Linked DNA regions of Homo sapiens. The main gene of each other region encodes a partner of the protein of the gene in region 2 in a complex. Each region holds a gene or a part of one and is shown on either strand. Other genes may lie near its edges. A codon is read from its position in the direction of its gene.

Region 1 (3,820 bases), on a different chromosome or scaffold from region 2:
GAAGAGACATCTGTTTTTTGTACACGTGCATTTGTGAAGGATAAAATTTCTCAAGACCTCGTCTCTTTGGGAGACAATGCAGTGGTAACGCAACAGTTTTTGAACCATCTCATCAAGACTTAGGTTTTCTGTCACAGTATTACAGATGACCAGTTATATAAAGCTAGGTGCCCACAATTACCAAGCATAGTGACAAAGCATTTATACATTTCACTTTTTGACCTATTTCTTTATGAATGTTTCATCTGCTCATCACCGTTATATCCGTGCAACTGTCATTGGTATACCTGAGTGTTTATCTTGCAAAAATGTTACTATTCCCTATTTTATCGTGTAGTGGCCTATGAAACGTTCTGTTGTGTTGTTTCTCAAATAAATACGCTTTTAAAAATGTAAGTAAATTTTCGAAGAATGTTTAGTATTTCTTCCAGAATTGTATTTTGGGATTTTGACCTTTTGGGATTGTGATTTTCAGAATTTTAGACTTTAGGGATTTTGATCTTTGGAGATTACAGTATTTTATTCAAAATTACGGTGTTCAGGACTGTCTTTTGAGATTATGTCCCAAAGCCAATCAACATATATTTAATTTAGTAATTTATTTTCTCTGCACTACTCTCTCTCTGGGTAAGGCATCACTGTACTGACCCTAGAAGCACTAAGTGATTACTGTTGAAGAGGATAGTCTATTTTCTGTTTGGAAAAAAAAAAAATTCAATACTAAAATTTTATATTAACAAAAAGTTTTTTTTTTTTAATCAAAGTACATAAAATAAAGGTGGACACAACTGTAAGTGATCACCAACCAGGGGATGTTTGGGATTTTTAGATGCATTAAAAGAGAGTATAGAGAATATCCACCTGCAAGTAAGATTGTATTCTTTTGCAACCCTGCGATTTTCAAATGGCACCCCAACACAGTCTTTGGTCAGGATAAGGGATCCTGCAGGCCTAGCCTTACCGTCCACATCAAATATAGGTGGAGGGATGCCATATTCTCCACATTTGGAGCTCTGTCAGGCTGCTCCCTTTCCACCAGTCCTATCCAGTGATACTGCAGACAAAGGGTGAGGCAACAGGAGACATCATACCGATGTTGATCAGGAGAGGAAGAAGGTGCAATCTTACTTCCAGGATTTCACATTTGGAAGAATGCCTTGGGAGTGGTGGGTAGCCCAAGGCTGTTCCCAGGAAAAGAAGCAGGCACAGGGCCCAGGACTCAGGCTCCATTTTGACCCAACGTTTATTGTCCTTTTACAACATGTCATTTTTTGGTTTAGAAACTGCTTGTGATTAGTTTTCCAACATTAACTCAAAAGCATGTAAAATAAATCAACCTACTCTCTATATAAACATCCAGCAACTGTGGCCCCTACCCACCTACCCAGGTTGGATAGGGGGAAGGGAGGGCTCGGGCAGCATTGAGTCAAGTGCAGATGCTTTACTGTGGCAGGTGGCAGTAGTGCCTTGGTTCACACCCCACACAGGTCCCCTGCACTGCCCCAAACTACAACAGAAATGGCATAGGCCCAAGGCCCAATTCCCTGTTGGTAATTCACTCTCCGCCTACCAAATGAAAATCGCTTTTATTTTATCGCTTTTGTTTTGTATTTTTGCAACAGAAACCCCCTGTCCAGAGTCAGACTGTAGCTGAACTGTTCAGACTGGAGAATGGAGCAGGCTGTGGGCGCACCCCTGGTCCCTCTCCTGGGCAAGCGCCCCCACCCCCAGGGAACAAGGTCCAGGCAGGCCAGCTCACTGCACGCTGGCCACCACCACTTAGCCATACAGGTCATCATCATTGTCTTCTGTGTATACACTGCCACCTGTGCCGCCTCCACTGCCCTGACTGGGGCCAGCTCCACCCTGGTTCCCTGAAGGGAATCTGTGTACAAGAGCAAAGCCAAAAAAGAGGGTTAGGACAGGGCCTGTGTAAGATTTCCACAACTACCCCTCTAGCTTCCTTAGGACTCCCATCCCTTTTGGTGTAGGTCCCCAAAGTAACTTAAGCACTGTCTAATGCTCCCAACCAACTTACCTGAAGCTGCCAAAGCCCCGACTCTGCTGAAGGGTCTGGGCAAACATCTCATACTTCCGAATGTCATTGTCACTGACAGAACGGCGCGCAAAGCGCATGGCTTCTTCAAAGTGATCTCGACGGATCTCAGGCACTGGATCATCCTCTTCTACCTCCTATAGTTGGTAAACACAGATCACTAGGGCTAGTTAAAGCCCAGCCTGGATTTCATCCCAGGCCTCCCATTACTGCAGTTTATTGGTCTCCTTGCCCTTCCAATCCAACCTGAGGTAAGATGCTAGGCCATGCTTCCTAAAATTGAGTCACTGCTCTGCTTAAAAACTTGTCAATGCACTCTGGAAAAGGGAAAACTGTAGGGACAGAAATCACATCAGTGATGGGGCTTAAGGAGGGGAGATGTTGACTGAAGTGGCTAAGGAAACTTTTTGAGATAGTAGAAATTTTAAGTCTCAACTGTGGTAGTAGTTATAGAACTTACACACACTTGTCATAAAGCATGGAAATGGTATATAGAAAGAGTGAATTTTATTGTATTTATATCATACCTTAATAAACCTTAATACTTTAAAAGGAAATGCCAATGGCTTTCAGTGCTTACCACATTTGGATTACATCCTACCTAGCGGTCTCACTTCCAGTGACATATATACTCTTAAATCTACCCAGGGTTTCCCAATGATTGCAATCCTACTACTAGAGCACATTATTTGGGCTGCTTATTCCCTTTATTCAAATTCTACTCTCTTCACAGCCCAGCTCAAAACCTATCTCTTCCATTGAGAGGCCAATTTCTGTGACTTATGTGACTACCTCCTAGGATTAGTTCATCAGTAGTTGTTAAGCTTTTATGGGAGAGAGAAGGGATGTCACAGACCCTTCAAAAGGGAAAGAAAGCCATTTATTTGCTCATTAAGTCCCATGTTTGGAACTTAATGAATTAATTAAGGGTAACACAAGACATAGTGGAAAACAAGTGAGATGACAGAGATCTTACCTTTATGGAACTTACAAACACATGAATTTGCCTTTTCATTTTGGGAGGTCTGTGGACCCTATCCCTTCCCCAACCATCAGGGATAAGTATATGAGTCTCATCTCAGCTCAAAACCTTGCTCTGTGGTTCACGCCTGTAATCCCAGCACTTTGGGAGGCCGAGGTGGGCACATCACAAGGTCAGGAGATCGAGACCATCCTGGCTAACGTGGTGAAACCACGTTTCTACTAAAAAAAAAATACAAAAAACTAGCCGGACATGGTGGCATGTGCCTGTAGTCCCAGCTACTCGGGAGGCTGAGGCAGGAGAATCGCTTGAACCTGGGAGGCAGAAGTTGCAGTGAGCCAAGATCGTGCCACTGCACTCCAGTCTGGGCAACAGAGTGAGACTTCGTCTCAAAAAAAAAACAAAAAACAAAAAACAAAAAAAACCTTGCTGTGTTTGCTGCACTCTCATACTTTGATTTCCCTCATGGAGCTTGGTTCAGACTGAGAATGGAGCCTGACCATCTCTTCTCGGCCTTATTCCAAATTGAATGGATTCACCTCAGCATTCTTTATCTTTGATGCCCTATTAAAATTCTTCTCAGTTAGATGATCTTTCCAACAGCTTCTACTCTCAACTCCAGGGCATGGTGGTGGCTGCTGCCTGGCTCTCCATGATTGGCACATCTGGGGAAAGGATGCAGACTCACCATGGCTGATGGGTTTGTCTGCCTCTCTCGTTCTCGCCTAATCTCACTCTCGATGGATTCACGGATGGCCAGCTTGCAAGCACGCTGGCAAATC
Region 2 (3,820 bases):
ACACTGATAGAGGGAACCTACTTAGAATGGTCAGCAAAGTTTTCTCAAACCCTTACAGGGTGGTGGTATTTAAGCCTAAACTTAAACGAGAAAGAACCAGCTATTTGAACAGCATAAAGTCTGATGAGCTATATTCTAAACTAACATAACACAGCTTAGCTCACATTTGGTAATTCACAAAGTAATTTCTGCACTTTGAAATCTGTAATCTTCTAAACAAGCTCTGTCATTTTCTAGTCCTCTCCAATCTAAACATCAACAGTTCCCCAGTACTCTTTACATATGGTTAGTATTTATCCCCAAACTGAATTTTGTAGGAACATCTTTTTTTTTAAATTAAGAATATCTTCGGCCAGGCGCAGTGGCTCATGCCTGTAATCCCAGCACTTTGGGAGGCCGAGGAGGGCGGATCCCCTGAGGTCGGGAGTTCAAGACCAGCCTGACCAACATGGAGAAACTCTCTCTCTATTAAAATACAAAAATTAGCTGGGTGTGGTGGCACGTGCTTGTAATCCCAGCTACTTGGGAGGCTGAGGCACGACAATTGCTTGAACCCAGGAGGCAGAGGTTGCAGTGAGCCGAGATCGCACCACTGCACTCCAGCCTGGCGACACTGCGAGACTCTGTCTCAAAAAAAAAATCTTCTACATAATTCAAATACAGTCATAAGCGAACTAGAGGAAGAAAACTAAGATTTATAAGGGACTAATATAATACAGGCTATGCACTTAATACTTCAATTTAAAGCAGAAAGTATCTCAAGTGATATCATTACAAAAGTAACACAATGCTCTCTTTTACACCCAAATTTTGTGTTGGTAGTGGAAGAAGTTTTAAAGAAATTTGTGGGTTTATACAGGCATAAATGCTGGATATGAAGAGGGAAGGGATCAGAATAGAAAGACATTATCTTGGTGAACTCATTGCAGTCCATACTCTAGGTTCTCTCAGATATTCAGGTCCAAGAACCTCCAACCAAACTCAGAAAGTATTTATACACCAGAATTATATTTGATTAATTTTCATTATGAAATATATTATCAACCAGGCACAGTGACTCACGCCTGTAATCCCAGCACTTTGGGAGGCCGAGGCGGGCGGTTCATGAGATCAGAAGATTGAGACCATCCCAGCTAACACGGTGAAACCCTGTCTCTACTAAAAATACAAAAAAATTAGCCAGGTGTGGTGGCACATGCCTGTAATCCCAGCTACTCAGGAGGCTGAGGCAGGAGAATCATTTGAACCCAGGTAGCAGAGGTTGCAATGAGCTGAGATCGCGCCACTGCATTCCAGCCTGGGCGACAGAGTGAGACTCTGTCTCAAAAATCTATATATAATCATACCGATCAGATTTTTTTTTTTTTTTTGAGATACAGTCTTGTTCTGTCGCCCAGGATGGAGTGCAGTGGCACGATCTCGGCTCACTGCAACCTCTGCCTCCCCGGTTCACAAGATTCTCCTGCCTCAGCCTCCTGACAAGCTGGGACTACAGGCTCCTGCCACCACACCCGGCTTATTTTTTTTTTGTATTTTTAGTAGAAACAGGGTTTCACCATCTTAGCCAGGATGGTCTCGAACTCCTGACCTCGTGATCTGCCCGCCTCAGCCTCCCAAAGTGCTGGGATTACAGGCATGAGCCACCGTGACTGGCTCTGATCATATTTTTAAGACTACTGATCATAATCCTGCCCATGTCCGTTTATTAGTCTACAATGGAGAATACAGCTTTCAAAGTGAACACGTCCTTATCTGCACTGTCACCTGTACATCAAAACTTGTTATCAGGAAGCTAAATAAGTGTTACGAATAGATGCCTGATGAACATGGAAATCAGGCAAAGGGATAGAGATGTTTCAGCCAGGCCACAGTCAGGATTGTTCAAATATTCCTACCCCTCGACAGAGATTACCTTTCTAGTTACCAGAATTTTCATGAACCCCAGATGATGTACCTTTTTCCTTTGTACAGCAGTATATGAACATTGCCGAATTCTGCTTTTCACTTTTTTCAATGTTCAGTGCTGACTGACCATCCATTCCATTTCTGCAGATACAGCCTTTCTTTAGCTGTGTTAATGTCATCTATTTAATTCAATTAAAAAACATTTCAGAGTGCATACTACCTGCTGAGCACTATTATCAGGTTCTGTGCATACAAGGATAAAGGTAAGAGCCACATTCTCAAGAGTCCATCTTCTATTGAGGAAGATCTTCTCTTTCCTGTTTTTGACCTGGGAGATTGAAGGTCTTTTATTTATTTACTTATTCATTTATTTATTTATTTTTTGAGACAGAGTCTCGCTCTGTCGCCAGGCTGGAGTGCCGTGGCGCGATCTAGGCTCACCGCAACCTCCAACTCCGGGGTTGAAGCGATTCTCCTGCCTCAGCCTCCAGAGTATCTGGGATTACAGTCACAGGCCACCTAGGATTTGTATTTAAGTACACTAGCATTCGTATTTAAGTGACCTTGATCACAAGGTCAGGAGATCAGGACCATCCTGGTCAACAAGTTGAAACCCCGTCTCTACTAAAAATACAAAAATTAGCTGGGCATGGAGGCGTGGGCCTGTAGTCCCAGCTACTTGGGAGGCTGAGGCAGGAGAATTGCTTGAACCCGGGAGGTGGAGTTTGCAGTGAGCCGAGATGGCGCCACTGCACTCCAGCCTGGAGACAGAGCAAGACTCCATCTCAAAAAAAAAAGAAAAAAAAAAAAGAAATATATAAAGTGCGTAGGACAGTTCCTGACATACTCCCCAATTCAATTACTATGTCTGGCAAACTAAAATCAACAATTCCGGGTTCTAAATTTGTGCAGGGTTTTTAGATCCCCTATTTACTACTCCCCCAGATAAGCCAGGAGTAGTATTCATTTTGATAGATTAAGGCCCAAATCACTGCCATATAGTACTATCAGAAAACAGAATCAAAACCCAGATGACTTTTCTCGTTGAAAGCTTTAATCTCAGCAAAAATAAAACCCTTCCAGTAACTAACACATTTAAATTTTACTTCATACTTTAAGACTTAGTAAAGCATACTAAGTTATTTCAAAACAAAGACTAAGCAAATATAGACACTGTAAAAAGTACACCATTGAACAGTATCCCAAATCATCTAAAGCTTTAAATTACACATTTGGTTAATATATTTTTCTTTAATTTATGCTGATTAAAAACAAATACTTCTTTACACCATTACCATCCATCTCTGTTTATGTTTCTCATGAACTACAACTTATAACAGTTCATTATAATTGATGGCAAAGACTTGAGTAGTGAAATTACTTAAATACAAATCCTAGTGTACTTACATACAAATCCTAGTGTATGAGAAAGAAAAATGTGATGAACTGGGAAAGGAAGAAAATGAAATGTAAGAGACTACTAGGTGGGAGTGCAGTGAGAATATAAACACCAGAAACTGCAATTCATCAAACAGGAAGTGCTGAAATCACATGACATACAGGAAAATAAAAATTAAAAATAAATGAAAAAGGGGCAAGGTAGGCAGGATCAATAGAGCCTACCAAAAAATTTAAAACGCTTTAAATAAATACAAGTCTGTTTTTTAAAAAGCAATTGCAAGAATAAGATATATTTAAATAATCTGTTGACTATTATTGAGGGACTACCTTAACTTTCTATTTTCCTAATAGTTACTCAATAATCCTATTAACATCTATCAACTGTTCAAAATACTAAAAATAATTCTCTCCTGAAATATATAATTAAAAACTTACAATGGCTACAGATTTCTTTTCCCCCAAAGATAACAGGAAAACTCAGTGTATTATATTTACAATTAAGATATACCATCAG

Evidence for each region.
Region 1: the proteins of VCPIP1 (region 2) and VCP are in contact, whole or in part, in a cryo-EM structure (PDB 9DIL), measured with the Homo sapiens proteins. Residues at the interface, in NP_079330.2 of Homo sapiens: Trp609, Ser620, Asn621, Val622, Tyr623, Asp624, Gln645, His649, Leu652, Thr655, Ala656, Lys657; in NP_009057.1 of Homo sapiens: Asn589, Asp627, Asn750 (codon at 2,106), Arg753 (codon at 2,097), Lys754 (codon at 2,094), Met757 (codon at 2,085), Phe758 (codon at 2,082), Gln760 (codon at 2,076), Thr761 (codon at 2,073).

The regions. Positions count from the first base shown.
Region 1 is NC_000009.12:35,055,338-35,059,157, forward strand, and holds the end of VCP (transitional endoplasmic reticulum ATPase), read right to left. Parts: coding exon 3,727-3,820; intron 2,194-3,726; coding exon 2,039-2,193; intron 1,886-2,038; coding exon 1,780-1,885; 3' UTR 727-1,779; downstream 1-726. UniProt on the Homo sapiens protein: Necessary for the fragmentation of Golgi stacks during mitosis and for their reassembly after mitosis. Involved in the formation of the transitional endoplasmic reticulum (tER).
Region 2 is NC_000008.11:66,660,412-66,664,231, forward strand, and holds part of VCPIP1 (deubiquitinating protein VCPIP1), read right to left. Parts: intron 1-3,820. UniProt on the Homo sapiens protein: Deubiquitinating enzyme involved in DNA repair and reassembly of the Golgi apparatus and the endoplasmic reticulum following mitosis. Necessary for VCP-mediated reassembly of Golgi stacks after mitosis.